Linked DNA regions of Homo sapiens: region 2 is linked to region 1. Evidence: fine-mapped expression QTL. Tissue or cell type: thyroid. Region 1 holds a variant in brackets; the other region holds the start of a gene. All regions are shown on one strand. Distances are between the middles of the regions.

Evidence for each region. PIP is the estimated chance that this variant, and not a neighbour inherited with it, causes the effect.
Region 2: it holds the start of SLA, and the variant in region 1 is fine-mapped to the expression of SLA in thyroid (GTEx, PIP 0.96).

What each region holds. Positions count from the first base shown.
Region 1 is chr8:133,468,176-133,476,262 of GRCh38, reverse strand. It overlaps ST3GAL1 (ST3 beta-galactoside alpha-2,3-sialyltransferase 1), which reads left to right. Exons shown (of 10, transcript NM_173344.3): 5 at 189-544. The coding sequence starts at 239. Among named protein-coding and RNA genes, the nearest start is that of ST3GAL1-DT, 98 kb to the left of the region's middle. The variant C/G (reference allele first, on the strand shown) is at 4,900.
Region 2 is chr8:133,099,482-133,107,565 of GRCh38, reverse strand. It overlaps SLA (Src like adaptor), which reads left to right and starts at 4,964. Exons shown (of 9, transcript NM_001045556.3): 1 at 4,964-5,013. The region is part of intron 43 of TG (thyroglobulin); the gene reads right to left.

The DNA of each region.
Region 1 (8,087 bases):
CAAAGCCAACATGCCACGAATGGCGTTGGTCTACCACACAGCCGTGTCTGGGACACAGTTGGGGGTCATCCCCCAGCAGGAGTGAAGTCGAGCTTAGCGGCCCTTGTGTCCTCCCTTGGAATTCCTGCCATCCCTTTTGATTGAGCCTCCACCTCTGGGATTTTTCTTCCATTTTTCTCCTCTCTTAGGAGGGAGTTCCTGCTACCCATCGTGGGAGGCCACCATCAGGACTGCGAAGATGGTGACCCTGCGGAAGAGGACCCTGAAAGTGCTCACCTTCCTCGTGCTCTTCATCTTCCTCACCTCCTTCTTCCTGAACTACTCCCACACCATGGTGGCCACCACCTGGTTCCCCAAGCAGATGGTCCTGGAGCTCTCCGAGAACCTGAAGAGACTGATCAAGCACAGGCCTTGCACCTGCACCCACTGCATCGGGCAGCGCAAGCTCTCGGCCTGGTTCGATGAGAGGTTCAACCAGACCATGCAGCCGCTGCTGACCGCCCAGAACGCGCTCTTGGAGGACGACACCTACCGATGGTGGCTGGTGAGATGCTGCCTGAGAGCGGGGTCTGGGCTGAGAGTTGGGGTGTGGACTGAGAGTGGGGTCTGGGCTGAGAGTGGGGATCTGGATAAGAGTGGGAGGCCTGGGCTGAAAGTGGGAGTCTGGGCTGAGGGTAGGGGTCTGGTAATGAGAGTGAGGTGCTCTCAGAGTTAAATGCTCAGTCCCCGTGTACACCTGGGGCCCTGCCAGGCAGTTAGTAGGATTCAGATTATTGTCCCACACTATTTATTGAGGATCTATTATATCTAAGTCAGAGCAGGAAGCACGGCTTTAGTTTCCTGTGGCTGCCATAACAAATTTCTGCACAATTCATGGCTCAAAACACCAAAAGTGCATCCTCTTGCAGCTCTGGAGGCCAGAAGTCTGAAAACAAATTATGGGCAGACTTGGCTCCTCCTGGAGGCTCTGAGGGGGAAGCCGCCCCAGGCCCGCTCCTGGCTCCTGCCAGCTGCCGGCAGTGCTGGGCGTTCCTGGGCTCAGAGCTGCAGCAGTCCAGCCTCTGCCTCCACTTCCACAGGGCCTTCCTCCCTGTATCCCTTTATGTCTCACATGTCCCTCTCCTTTTCTTATGAGGACACCTGTCATCAGGTTTAGGGCCCACCCTAATCCAGGATGATCTCATGCAGAGATCCTCAACAATTTCACCCACAGAGGCGCTTTTTCCAAATGTCATGCTCACAGATTCCGGTGACTAGCACTTGAACGTATCTTTTTGGGAGCCACTATTTCACCCACTACAGCTATTGAAATGCAAAAAGAGAGAGAGATCCTTATTCTCATGGAATTTTATTCTGGCTGGGAGGGGAAGATAAGAAATAAACAAGGTAGGCTCACACAGAAGTGCTTTGAAGACAGATCCAATGAGGTTTGTCATAGAAACTTAGAGGGGGCTTCTGTAAATGGGGTCACCAGGGAGGTCTCTGAGACAGCAGGACTCAAGTTGAGACCCACAGGCAGAGAAGGCAGCAGCCATGAGAAGAGCAGGACCATGCACTGCAGGTGTCTGGGACAGCGGGTGCAAGAGCCCGAGGGTGGCCTCTGCTGGATGTAATGGGGAGTAGAGGAGCTCTGCATGGCTGGGGGGCTGTAAATCAGGGGAGGTGCAGTGAGACGAGGCCTGAGAGTCAGCAAGACCCAGGGGAGGACTCTGGGATTTCTTGTAAGTGCAACAGGAAATCACTGTAGAATTTTTGTCAGGGGGTTTCATGATCTGATCTTGTCATTTGAAAGGTCATTCCCATGTTAAATGCAAAATAGATCGAAGAAGAGCAAGATATATGTGTTCATGTCTTATTTATTGAGCACCTACTATATGCCAAGCATCACTACATTGAGATGGAAAAGATAGAGTCTTTCCTTTCTTGGGTTGCAGGAGTGATGGGGAGAGAAGGGAAAACAGACAAACTCAAGCCAGGACCATAGGTGCTGTGCAGGAAGTGGGCACAGGAGCGATGGTCTTCATGTCCAACTCCCCTTGGAGCCTGGGGTTATCGCAGAAGGCTTCCTACAGGAGTGATGGCCAGGTTCATCATGAAGGATTCAGAGAGGTTATCCAGGTAGATTCTGGGGAAGGTCTATTTGAAATGAACAGAAAACATGTGTGAGACTTAGAAAGGTCAAAAGCCCTGGGCTATGCTTCCAAAGACCTGGCTGAGTCCTGGTTTGCTAATCTGTGTTGAGCACCACTGTGTGCAGGTCCTGGGGTGGGCTCTGGGGAGGTAACAGAGAACCGGGCAGGTAGGGTCTTTTCCCTTTCAAAGATCCAAGGGTCTAGGGAAGGAGGTGGCGAGCCAGGCATGGTAAGGATTAGGGTCTGCTCTCAGCCTCAGCACTATGGACTTGTGGGGCAGGATCAGCCTTAGTCACAAGGGCTGCCCCGTGCATTGCAGGATGTTTAGCAGCATCACTGGTCTCTACCTACTAAATGCTAGGAGTGCCCCATCCCCAGTTGCGATAGCCAGAAGATCTCCAGACATTGTCAGGTGTCCCAGGTGGGGTGTGCGTGTGTGTGGGTGCACATGCATGCACAAAGTTGCCCTCCCTTGAGAACCAGCAGGGTTGGGAAAATGACACATTGATGGCAGAGGTGGCTTCACACACATCCCATCTCCTCTCTGGATCTGATTCCCCCTGTAGCAGCAGTTGCTGGGACCACGTTAAGTCCAAACTTCCTCTTCAGAGCCTGGAGTCTGTGATGTTCAGTGTCACCATGGGATTCTGTTTACAAAGGCCTTTTGGGGACAAACAGGGTACTACACAGCCTGTTTATATAAACCAAACAGGAAGGGACCTTACACAACAGCAGGTAAAGGAGAAACTTGGGGGCCTTTGTCCTCATTTTACAGACAAGGAAACTGAAACTCAGAAAAGTTAGGTGACTTTTGCAAAAGAGAACATCAAATCCAACCTCTGGAAATACCGTATTAAAAACTGTTATTAGAGAGTATCACCAAGACAGTATCGATCTTTCTTCTTGGGGAGGGCGGTTTCTAAAACTCTTAGGCTGGTGTCGCCCAGGAGGGTTAAAAAGGCGTAAGGGAAAAACATCAGCTTCTGGATATAAGCCATGTGTCTTCAAAGAACACAGGCTATAATGTAGACTTAGGAACTGGGGCCTGGCATCAGCGTTCCTAGGTTTTGTCGCAGAGTTTGTAGGTCCCATCAGGAGTGACTTTGAAGAAGCTCTTCATCTCACTGAGTCTCAGCCTCCTTCGTGTTACATGGGAGAAATGTTACTTCACCAGGTTCTCTACAACCCTGCAAACATTAGTTTTAACAATTGTATTTATTTTTGTTGGTTTAATGGGCAAGTAATACTGAACTTAGGTGGGTTTTTTTTTTTTTTCAGTACTAATTAAGGCTGAATATATTTCCACTTAGTTGTTTCCCATTTACCAGATGTCTTCCCCTACCTGCAGCCCTTCTCTGCAGTCTTTTTCTGAAGTTTAGCCTCTGGTGGCTGATCCCAGGGCAGCCACTTGGAAGGAATGGGGCTTCACCCTCTGGAAATCAACAGAAAGGAGCAGGGCTTTAGAGCTTTGGGGTTCTAAAAAATGCACAGATAATACGGAAACCACACGCTTTGAATAAAGAATCGGGATACAGGCATGGAATATCTGACAACAAAGCCATCCTGAGAACTCCAGGCTGCGCCATTGCTCTGCTTAAAGGCCCCCCTGCAGGCAGGACCATTTCATGAATGGAACTGGACTTGGGTCATGATATGGTTTGGCTTTCACCCAAATCTCATCTTGAATTGTAGCTCCCACAATTCCCACGTGTTGTGGGAGGGACCTGGTGGGAGATAATTAATCATGGGGGCGATTTCCCCCATACTGTTGAGGGGGTTGGAAGAATCTTAGGTGAGAATGTGAGGTCCCGAGCTCCCATCCTGCCCTGAGCTTCATAGTCCTCCTCAGTCAAGTGGGCATCACAATTCCAGCTCGTCCCAGCCCTGGCAGGAACAGGGACACAGGAGCAGTCACCAGGGCTCACTCTTTTAGTTGAGTTGAGTTGAGTTGAGTTAAATTGAGTTGAGTTGAGTTTACAAATCAGCCCCGTGCCCTGCAAGTGAAGAGACTGCACCACCATCCCAGGCTGGACCTACTGACCCCTGTGACCCTCTCCTCGGGTCTCTGTCCCAGACACCCAGGAACAGGGATTCCTTCTTCCCCAGTCCCCATGTCCAATTCAGAGACAAGCCATGTCGAATGCTGACTCTGCCTTCTCTACTTGCCCCCAACTTGGGAAACCGTTTTGTGATACGCAGGGGACATTCTCAAGGGACAGAAAGAGTGCGACCCTCCCCTGATTTCCGCCCCCTGCCCTCCTAAGGCATCTTCCCATCCCAGACATCCATGCCCAGTGCCCAAATGCAAAATAATACCATCATACTGTCCACCCGGCGCCTAGCACCAACTCTGGCCAGGTCCTGGGCCCAGCTTTCCAGGTACCACTGCTTCGCCCTTACCACCCCCACCACCAGGAGGGTGTAGGTATCTCATTGTCCTCACTTTGCACTTACCAGGTCACCCACTGTCAAAGGGCACAGTCAGATCCCCTTGTAGTTAAAGGACATGGTCTGGAGTCAGGCCCAGGATATTCAAACTGTTTTGGTCCTGGGAAACTCACTTCACCTCTGTAAGCCTCAGTTTCCTCACCTGTAAAATAGGTCTATAAGATCACCTTTCTCATAGAACCATTATAGAAACTCAGTGAGAAGCTGCCTATCAGGTTATCAGCACAGGGTCCTGCATAGGGCAACCATAGAACATGCGCTTCTGCTCAGGGTGAGCCATCTGAGTCCTGCACGAGCCATTTCTAAGCACCGCCTGTCC[C/G]GGCGCTAACCTGTCCACCCCACCTGTCCACCCCACACGGCACCGGGGATGTGATAGGGGCTCAGTTGTGATGAGTTGAATGAATGAATGTGTGTTAGCTTTAGCAGTTGTCATTCACTTATTCAATGGACATATCTTGAGCCTGTACTACCTAGCATGCTTGTGTCTGCTGCTTGGATGCCAAAGGGGCCAGGGAAACCAACAGCAGCTGGGGATTGGAATGAGGCCTGCGGTGAGGCCCCAGTGGTGCCACCCATGTGTGGAAGGCCAGAGACTGATATTTCCAGGGTCCAAGGGAGGCTTCTCAGAAGGCGATGCATCATTCATTGGCCGTGGAAGGAGGAAGGAGGATGGGAAGGGAGCGCGGGTACCTCTTCCCAACACTCTCGGGACGGGTGTGGCCTGTGGATAGGGAGGACTTCCAGCCATCGTGCCTCAAGACAGGACAAACTCTGCCATAGCACAGGCTCCAGAGTTCCTGTGGATCATGCCCGAGTGCAGGGTGAGGTGAGGCACCCAGGGCTCCAGCTTCAAGGAGATGTCCGCTCTCGGGCCGTGCCCCTGGGCATGAGTGGGCCTCCTTATCCCACTTGCCCGACTCCTCACTCGCCTCGCCCCCAGCCTGCAGTGCTTGACTCCATGGAGACCTCCCCTTCCTTCTCCTGCCTTGCTTCTCATCCCTCTCCAGACAGCACCCACCATGGACACCTGCATCCGTGCCCCAGCCTCTGCTTCCAGGGAAGCTGACCCGAGGCCCCGTGCTTCCCAAGGAGCTCAGGCCACCAGGCGGCAGGCATTGATTGAGCGCTGATTGTATGCAGATTGAGCGCTGATTGTATATACTTGGAAACTAGTCTGGAAGGCTGGAGAGGGCGTGTCCCTGAACTTCCAAACACTCTGTCCTGTGTTCATATCAGTAGCACTGTCATACTTTTTTTTTTTTTGGCATGGAGTTTCTCTCTTGTTGCCCAGGCTGGAGTGCAATGGCGTGATCTCGGCTCACCACAACCTCCGCCTCCTGGGTTCAAGTGATTCTCCTGCCTCAGCCTCCTGAGTAGCTGGGATTTCAGGCATGCACCATCACGCCCAGCTGATTTTGTATTTTTAGTAGAGACCGGGTTTCTCCATGTTGGTCAGGCTGGTCTCAAACTCCTGACCACAGGTGACCCACCCGCCTTGGCCTCGCAAAGTGTTGGGATTACAGGCGTGAGCCACCGCACCTGGCCAGCACTGTTGTTCTTTTATTGCCACTGACAAAAGGCAGAGAAAACCAGAATATTTCTTTCCCAAAACAGTGACGCCACATGGAGTAACCTGCCTGCTCCATCTCAGCTGGTGTGGGGAGGACTTACTATGATAATCTAGAGAAAGAGCCAGTTTCCCATCTGAGCTCTACCTGGCCCTGCACTCACTCTGGGACCTCAAGTGAGCCCTTTCCAGGGTCTGGGCCTCCATTTCCCCTTTTGCCAATGAAAGATTGGAATGGGTCTGAGATTTCTGAAGCGTGGGGCTTGTGATGTTAGGTGAGGCAGGGCACTAGAGAAAGTCGCATCACAGAGCCCGGAGGTCATTTCTGCCGTCCCTCCTTCCCACCTGTCTCTGCAGTGCTGGGGCTTCAGTTTGGCCTGGTGTCTTACTTTGCACCTTGTCAGCGCTTGTCAGCCTTGTTCTAAGGGAGAGGAGAGTTTGCCTGGGCAGGCAGCAGGGTAGAGCTGCAACCGAATACAGTAGTTTTGTTTTCATTGCATTGTACAACTACCATTTTACTTCTGCCAGGTAATTCTTGCTTTCTACGTGTGGTAGAGATGAGAGGTTTCCTTTCTAATAAGTTTATTTTTATTATTTGGCCAGGCATGGTGGCTCACACCTATAATCCCAACACTTTGGGAGGCTGAGGCGGGTTCATCACCTGAGGTCAGGAGTTCGAGACCAGCCTGGCCAACATGGTGAAACCGTGTTTCTACTAAAAATACAAAAATTAGCCAGGCACAGTGGTGCACACCTGTAATCCCAGCTGCTTGGGAGGCTAAGGCAGGAGAATCCCTTGAACCCAGGAGGTAGAGGTTGCAGTGAGCCGAGATCGCACCACTGCATTCCAGCCTGGGCGATAGAGTGAGACTCCATATCAAATCAAATCAAATCAATCAATCAATCAATCAATTTATTTTTCTTAAATAAGTCATTAAAGAAAAGTAAGTCAGTCAGAGTCCAGCAGGATGATGTGGTGCTGTGTGAAGCAGGCAGCATACTCTCCACACACGTCCATGGCCGAGCTTGAGTCCTGGCTTCTCAGGCCTCTGTGGCACCCAGTAGACACTCAGTAAATGTCACTGCATGATGGATACACGGTGCCAGGCTCCCAAATCAAAGTAGCGGCGTGATGGAAGGCCACCCCCTGGGCCTGGGCACATCTTTACAAGCCTAAGGGGCACAGCAGCCCTTGCTAGTTGGAGACCTCCATGGAGGTTCAGGGGAGTCTGGCTGTGGTCCTCTACCCTGGGGCTCTCAGAGTGTAGTCCCCCCACCAGCCCTGGCAGCAGCATCACCCAGGAGTCTGTTAGAAATGCAGGATTTCGGGGCCAGCTTTAAACCTACTGAGTAAGATCTGTGCCTTAGCAAGCCTCCAGGGGGTTTTCCGCACATTCAGGATCATGGAGCCACCCTGGATGATCCCATCAGAATCAGGCATTTTATCTGGATATCACATCTGTGTGTGTGACAACATATTCATAATATTTATCATTTTCACCACTTGTGTGTGTACGATTCAGTAGCATTAAATATATTCACAGTGTGTGTAACAATCACCATTATCTATAACCATAACTAGCAGATTTTTGTCATCCCAAGCAAAAACTCTGTCCCCATTAAACAGTAACTTCCCCTTACCTCCTCCTCCTCCCAGCCCCTGACAGCCACGCTGCCACTCTCTGTCTCTATGAATTTGACTACTCTAGGTACCTCACATAAGTGGAATCATATAATATTTTTCCTTCTATGTCTGGCTTCTTTCATTAATCATAATATTAGTATTTTCAAGGTCCATCCATGTTGTAACCTATTTCAAAATTTTCTTTTTATAGCTAAATAATATCCCATCATATGTCTGGAACGTACTATGTTTGTTTATTCATCCATCGCTGGAGACTGGGTTGCTCCCACCTTTTATCTATTATGAATAATGCTGC
Region 2 (8,084 bases), 370 kb after region 1:
GCCCCGAGCACAGATGCCATTGCCAGTTTAATTAGAGAGTCAGCAGGCGGGAGTGGGGGCCACCGTGTGACTGCATGTGCTGACTTCCACAAGCTGTAATTACAGGCGGGGTCTGCCTTAGACAGTAGATTTGTTACAGGCAGGAATTACACAAAGGGCTGTCATGAACTGGCCACTCCTTGGTGTGTGCTTTTAAAGGACTGCCATTAACACATCCTAATGAAAAGTAAGAGCCCTTGGAAACACCGAGGGACTGAGCAGGGCCTCAGCATCAACCTGAATGTCTTGGGGCCCAGTGGATTGAATGTGAAATTTGGCATTTGAGAGACTCAGGTTCAAATCTAGCTCTATTCTGTGGCCTCAGAAGATTCACCTCCAATGAACAAATGTGTTCAGTGGATATGCCTGTCTGTGCCTTCATTTCAGGTCAATAAAATGGGGTTGATGTTAGAACGAAATGCATTAATGATTATAAAGAGGCTGACACATGGGAGACAATAAATATGACTTCTCTCTTCCCTCTAGTTAGTAAATGATTAAAAAGAAAATCAGCAAGGCAGGTGAGAAATGCCCTTTAGTTCACGCCGAGTGGTGTCTGAGAGACACGATGAGAACACATGGCTGCAGGCCCTTGCTGTTCATCCTACCGTCCCTTCAACAACTATGCTCGGAGTGCCTGAGTATGCCAGGAGCAGCTCGAGGCATTTGGGACACATCAGCGAACAATCGGGCTGTTCTCTGCCTGCATGGGGCTTCTAGTTCTGTGAGACAGGCTGACAATATACAGCACATCTATGTGATATGGACTGTCCTGGGGTGATAAGGAACAAGATTCGTGCATAGAACAGGAAGCCGGAAAGGGGACGGGGGTGCTGGGCAGTGAGGGTCCCAGTTGTGCCCTAGGGAGCTGGGTTAGGCAGCGTGGAGGATGGTTGAGTCCAGACAAGAGAGGGTAGGGTTCAGACATGCGGACAGCTGGGTGAGGGGGAGCAGCGAGGTCCACGGGGTCAGTGGAGTGATGAGGGCAGAGGAGCAGGGGAGAAGCCAGAAAGAACAGAGGGCTGGGTGGCTGGGAGAGCCTCACCCTACCTTTTGCTTTTTTGCTTCAGGCGGGACCTGGGAGAAGAGCTTCCCCATCCTGGTTTGCAAATGTGACCTGCCAGAGAGCATGGAACACAGAGCAGGCCAGGCTGGGTGTCCTTGCATTGGCCCCAGGCACTGCAGAGCCTCAGTAAGGAGCCGACTGGCCCCTCAGCGCTGCTTCCCCCTGGCCCTGCCTCCTGCTGCAAACCCCAAGGCCAGCGCACTCTGCAGGCCACACTGCCCTCTCCTCAGGGAATGGCCCTTCCTCCTCTTGGACTGAGGGCCCTCCATCTCTCTGAGGCTCAGTCTTTGCTGCCCACAGCCCTGGAGCCCCTCGCTGGGCAAACCCCCCCACTGGCTCTTTCAGACCTTCAGTGTGCAGCTCTCCATGAGTCCCACCCCCACCTAGAGCTAAAGTGCCTGCCTGGCAGTCCCCAACAGGAGGGTCTCCTCCATCTGCTTCATCCAGGTGCTCTCAGCTAGATGTGCACTCCAAGAGCATGTCTACATGGTGGGCTCCAACTGTCCTATAGCCTCTTTACCATATGGCCATCTGGCTACCCCAACCTCCATCAAGGTCACTGATAACCTTGCAGAGGTCCACCAGTAGACGCCCCATCCCCCACCTCTCCATCTCCTCCTCCCAGTCAGCTCTGCCTCAGCCTAATTTCTGGAACCTCGTTCTGCTGTCTCTGACTACTCTTGAAAGCCAAGGCTCCCAGCTGCCACCCTGTCCCCTTTTCCTCCCATTCTGTCCACGAATGCTTGTGGGGTGGGGCCATTTCCTCTCCTTGCTTGAAGAATGACCTATTAAGCTAATGATTCCCAAATCTCTCTCCAGCTTGAACCTCATACCTTCATATAAATGCCTCACATCACCTGGAAATCTCTCAGGCCCCTCAAACTCAACCTAGGCACAATTTATCTTCGTCATCCATATGTGTTCTTCCTCACCCCTAGAACCTTCTTCCCCTGCTATTTCCCTATCCTTAGTGACTAAGACCAGCCCTCAATTACCTGATTAAAACACAGGTATTTCCTGATTGCTCCTAAAATCATTCCCCTCTTCCCCTACATTTTGCTGTAGCCTGTGCCTACGATCTTCATCCTGAGTGACACCTGCCCCCACCTCCGGTCCACCCCTACTGCTGTCCTAGTTCACAGCACATCTCCTCTACCACACTGGGGCAGAAGCAGAGATGTTGCTCTTGGCAGGGGCTTAGGGGAGGAATGGTTTGTACACAGACAGCCTGTAGTCAATTTTTGCTCATTGATAATGCTCCAATTTTTGAAAAATGGTTGTAACATCACAGGTTGGGGAAGAAGGAGACACAGAGCAGAATCCCCACCAGAAAAGTAGGAAGCCTACCAGAGTTCACCTGCTTCTTGCAAGATTATATGAATGGATGAGTGAATGAATACACAAATGCTCCAGAATTCTCTAGAGCTCTGAGGTAGATGGAGACACAACACTCCTTTGTTCATTAGAGGGACATGAATTGAAGACCAACCTAGTAGGAACTGAGGATTCCAAATGGACATGACACAATTCCTGTCATGGAGCAGAGCTTGGTGAAGTCAGTGGGGTCAGCTGGTGAATGAGCAAAGTGCTCTGTGAATCCTGGGTGGCCGTTTGCATCCAGTGGAGAGCATCATTCAGTGGAGACAGGGTGGGTTTGGGAAGCAATGTGACCATGTCCTCACTTCCCCTCTTCCCCCAGCCTATTCCAATCAGCCTTTCCTTCCCGTTACTCCACTGAAATGGCCCTCATCAAGGTCTCCCATGACCTACAAGAGCCCAATCTCTGCCCTCATCTCTCTTGACTCTGTGACATTTGACTTTTGCTTCCTTTTGGAAATGCTTTCTTTTCTTGGCTATTGTGATACCGCATTTTCTTGGTTTTCTTCCAAAGCTGTATCTACAGCCCTGACCTCTCTACTGAATTCCCAACTCATATAGTCAGCTGCCAACGCGAGATATATCCCAAATCTGATCATTTTTTACTGTGACCATGTCTGCAACCCTAATTTAAGTTACTAGCTCAACCCCTGGATTTCCACAATAGAGCCCAATCTGATCTCTACTTCCTGGGTCACACATCTCCTTAGTCAATTTTCCATATAGCTGCCAGAAATGTTCCTTTTTAAAACAGTGGATCAATATAATCACCTTCTATTATTAGCTTGAAACATTCCAGTAACTGCCCACTGCAAGGAGAATAAAGTCACTTTTCTGATGGCCTGAAAGATCTCATAACTGGTCTTCTTCATCCCTCTGACTTCCTCTCCTCCCAGTCCCTCCACTGGCCACTGGATCTCCTAGCACTGACCTCCCTGTGACCCCCAAACAGCCAGGACCACTCCTGCCCCAGGGCCTTTGCACCCACTCTGTACCTCAATCCCCATCGCTGGCTCCCCATTGCTCAGGCCTCAGTCCAGAAGTCACCTCCTCCGAAAAGCCTTCTCTGACTGCCCCTAAAGTAATTGCCCCATTCCATCGCCTCCTCTGCAATGGCCCCACTTCAGTGTTCTTCAGGGCATTTCTAAGATCTGAAATTCTTTATTTACTTACATCATCTGTGTCCTTTCATGAGAACATGAACTCTCCGAGTCAGAAGCTTTATCTGTTTAGGTTACAACTGTGCCCTCTAAAGCCTAGAGAGAGTCCAGCGCACAGAAGCCTCTGAATAATCTATGTTGGAGAGATGCTGCATGGGTTAATGCTTGAATGACTCCTGACTTCACTGCTCCTTATGGTGTTAAGGGACAAGGACTTACTTCTCCATCAAGCACAGCTTGCTCAGGGCCAAGGGCTCACTGCACTTTTAGGAACTCACAAAAGTCTTTTCTTTCTAATTTCTTTTAAAATCAGAAGAAAAAATATAATAATAATGAAAATGTAATAATGAATCCAGCCTGGTTTACATTCATCCTTATAACAATGCAGTCATGAAATACAATATTTTAATATTTTGGGGGGGACAAGTCAGTCCTTCTGATCCTCAGCTTTCTCTGAACCATAATCCCAGCTCACAGGGCCCCTGGGGAGAATTAGACAACGTGACGTGTAAGCGTCAGCTGTGAGGGGTAATGTGGGGCTATAGCTCCAGGGTGGAGGGTTTACAGTGTGCAAGGGCATCCTAGAGCCATGAGACCTACAGGGCTCTCTGGGTGTTGGGAGATACCTCTTTCGCTTCTTATAACACTGCAAGAGACAGACAGGGTGGCTCTCACTGTGTCCATTTGAAGGCTAAAGAAACTGCAGCTCAGACCAGTTCAGCAACTCTCCTACATCGTGTGGCTAAAGCTAAGAATTGTGACCCATTTTTCTGAATCCAGGTCCCCGCGATGCCCTGGGTTCAGACCCTAACACCCTCCCGTCCCTGAGTGCTGGGGATTTAAGGCAGCAGTGCCTCCTTTCAGGAAATCACACACACACTGGAAACTCCTGCATACTCCTCTTACTATAATCTGTCACCAAAGACTGGATATTCCTGTGCTGGGGCTCGTGCCAGCGCCTCGGGCTGCCAGGTGCTGCTTTCCAACTCCCACATGGGCTGCCCTCCCCCTACTGCTACCCACAGGGCCCCCACTCCACCTGCTCCCAGACGAGGCCAACTCCTGGCCAAGCTTAGGGGCACAGCGGAGGCGCTCTGTTTCTGATTTTTCTCGCCTTCCTTGGAGATGCCTGTGCTTGGAAGGGAAGGCAGAACATTGCATCTTGGAACAAATCTGCTTTTGATCATGCAAATGAATGCCTGGATAATGTAGGCAGACTGTCAATTTCACCAGTTAGAAAGAAAGAGAAAAGGGGGAGAAATTCCCCATGACAGCGACTGATGAAGAATTTCAATAGAAAGCTGCTACTTCAGAAAATAAGATCATTTGCTGCGAATGGAGAACATCTCAGGCAGCCCTGATGCTCCACCGGTAGGTTGCTAACTTTGCTGTCATTGGGACCCCCTGGGTGGGCCATAGGTGGCCTGGGGTGGTATGTGGGGGAGGGTCTTCAGAGGGACTTGATGGATCCTGTACCCACCCTCCGTCTTTGGTCTGAAGAAAATGGGTGGGTCTCTGCTGGTGGTGAGTAGCTCCAGGGGGCAGGACTTGGGGTAAGAGGCTCCACTCCTGTCCCTCCGTGACTTCCCTGGGAAGCTGCACTGCATGTGTTTGTGGACTGGGATCCAGCTGATACTTATGCAGCGTTGGCATGAGTAGAGAGCATGCATTTGTGTTTACTACAATTTGGAAAATTGGTCTCAGGTCAGCTGAGGTGGTTCAGAGATTGGACGTTCTTTGTATTCCTGCTTTCTGTGTATAATTATCTGAAGAAGGGATAACAGCTTTGGACACTAATCTTAATATTAAAATTAAAAAATTAAGGGAAAAGAACGAACATTTATTGAAGCCAAACTATTTTCCAGATATTGTTGTGTATTTGAATTTTTGAACATCTTTATGAGGATATTTACTAATCATCTCCCAACTTCACAGATAGGGAAACTGAGGCTCAGACTCTGGGTAACTTGGATGCTCGTGATTGCAATCCAAGGACACCCAGGACACTCTCCCTGCTGTGTTGACACATGACCAAGGGAGCGGGGTCCTGGTCAGTTCCTGGCCATTGTGTCACTCCAGCTGACAGTGCTGCTATGGGGCCCAATGGCACCTGATCTCCACCTCCTGAGGTCTTGGAATAGATGTCCATCTCTCCATATAGTATGTATCAATGGTGTTTCAGTTGTTTGCCTTGTCTGTTATCATCTGACTGCAAGCCCTTCTGAGGGGAGGAATTCAATTTGTATTTTATGCTGAAACACCTGGCCCAGCATGACTAAACAAACAGGTGTTGGTGTTACAAAAACATGCTGGACACCCTGTTTAGGTGGATGTGGCAATTTACTGCAATTGATATGTCCTGTTTCTCAGCCCCAGATGGGGCAGGAGGGGCTGGGTGGGTATCAAAGGACAGAGGATGGAGTAAAAGGCATGGCTGAGATTGAGGCCCTCCAGAACCTGCCATCTTCAGGTCCTCCTTGGCTGATGGTGGTTGGACCCAGGTGCCATGGAGCCTTCTTGGGGCAAACAGAGAAATGCACAAGCCCAACTCTAAATTCAGGTTGGGAGTGGGCTGAGGCAAGGGAGGGCAATACAAGGGCACATTGGGTTGAAGTCCAGAGGAGTTTCCTCACTGTTGGGAGGGTGGGAGCATAGCTCATAACTCAGTTTCCACTTGGTTGTCCACTGTGCCCTCTTGCAGTTCTGTGTGGGGTAGAATCCTGAGGATCTCTCTAGGTGATGCTTGCGTATGGTGGGGGTAAGGTGGTGATAGCGCATCCCTGACCTAGTGTTTATCACAGATAGGGTAATGGGTAGAGCCTGCCACCCGCCACCCTCCCCACTCCTGCCCTGCAATTGGGGTCAGAGACCTGCAGTGGAGACTTGGCTTTCCAAAGGACTAGTTAGCTGACCTAGAGACACCCGGTAAACCTCACTAAGCCTTTCTTTCCCAGAAAAAAAATCGTGTTAAATACTGGTTCATGGTTCCCTACCTCACAGCCATACAGTTGAGATAACGTAAAGTAAGAGCATGAGTTACTTCACTTAGGCTAACCCCTAAGGCTATTGAAATTTTAAAATTATAAATAAATCAATAAATGACTACAGAAAAAAAAGAATGTGGGTAGAATTGGAAAGCCCTTTGCACATAGTAGCCTTTATTCTAGCTGGGTTTGTGTACATTTCAGTACCCAGCATACCGTTGATGGTAGATGGAAGGCTCTCAGAGGAAAGCCTGGCTTTTCCCAGAGTGACGTCATGGGAAGAGGATATTTGGAGGCAGATAGAACTGGGTTTTAATTCTGGTTTCTCTCTGAAAAATAGTAATAATAATCCCCACCTCATAGGGTAATAGTTGTGAGGGTGAATTATTTCATTGAAGACTTCCAGGTTAGGGCCCAGCACATAGTCAGTTCTTCATAATTTCATTCATTCATCCTAGTGAATGTCTATTGTGTGCCTGCTGTGTGCAATTTGTCTAGCAGAACTAGAAACATTTCTAGGCACCAGAGATATAGCAGTTTCAAACATTCTAGTTGGGGAAGAAAGACAACAGACAAATACATAATATGGCAGGAGGTTTGAGTGCTGGGGTAGGGTGTAGGATGTAGGGATAGAGAAGGCTGGGGATATGGCTTCCCTCTGAATCCAAGTGGTCAAGCAAGGTCTTTCTGATAAGCAGACCCTGAAGGGAGTAAGGCAGTGAGTTGTCTGGGAAGAACATTCCAGAAGAAAAAACAGCAAGTACCAGGACCCTGATATGGGATGTGCTCAGCCTATTTGAGAAACTCTAAAGGGATAAACCAGTGAGCCAAGAGGGAACAGCAGGAGTTAAGGTCAGAGAGCTAACAGAGGTCACATCAAATAGGCTCTGGCAGTTCATAGAAGACTGGAATTTTCCTCTGCATGAGAGGAGGCCACTGGAGAGAAGGCTTGGAGCAGAGGAGTAAAATGGTCTGACTTATAAAGGGATTGCTCTGGCTACTGTGCTTCTCATAGATTATAAGAGGCAAGGCAGGTGCAGAGAGAGAGTTGGGGGCTAGCACAAAAATCTCAAATAAAGTGGCTGGATCAGGGTGATAGCAGAAGAGGTAGGGGAGCAGGGTTTGGATTTGGGATACATTTGGAAAATACAGCCAGCTGGATTTTCTGATAGAATGCTGGTAGGGTATGAGAGAGCAGTGTCAGGAATGACTTTTGGTTTTGAGCCTGAGTACAGAAGGATGAGTTGTTTAGTTGCTGAGTTGTTTACTGAGATGGTGAAGACTACAGAAGAACATGCTGGTTGGGGATGGGAGCAGAGGTGGAATCGGCAGTCCACTTTGGGTGTGTTATGGATGAGACACTATGAGACATGTAAGTGAAGATGTCAAGTGGGCCATTGGCTAAACCAGTTCAGAGTTCAAGGGAAAAGTCCAGGAGGAATAAATCTGTGTGCAGAC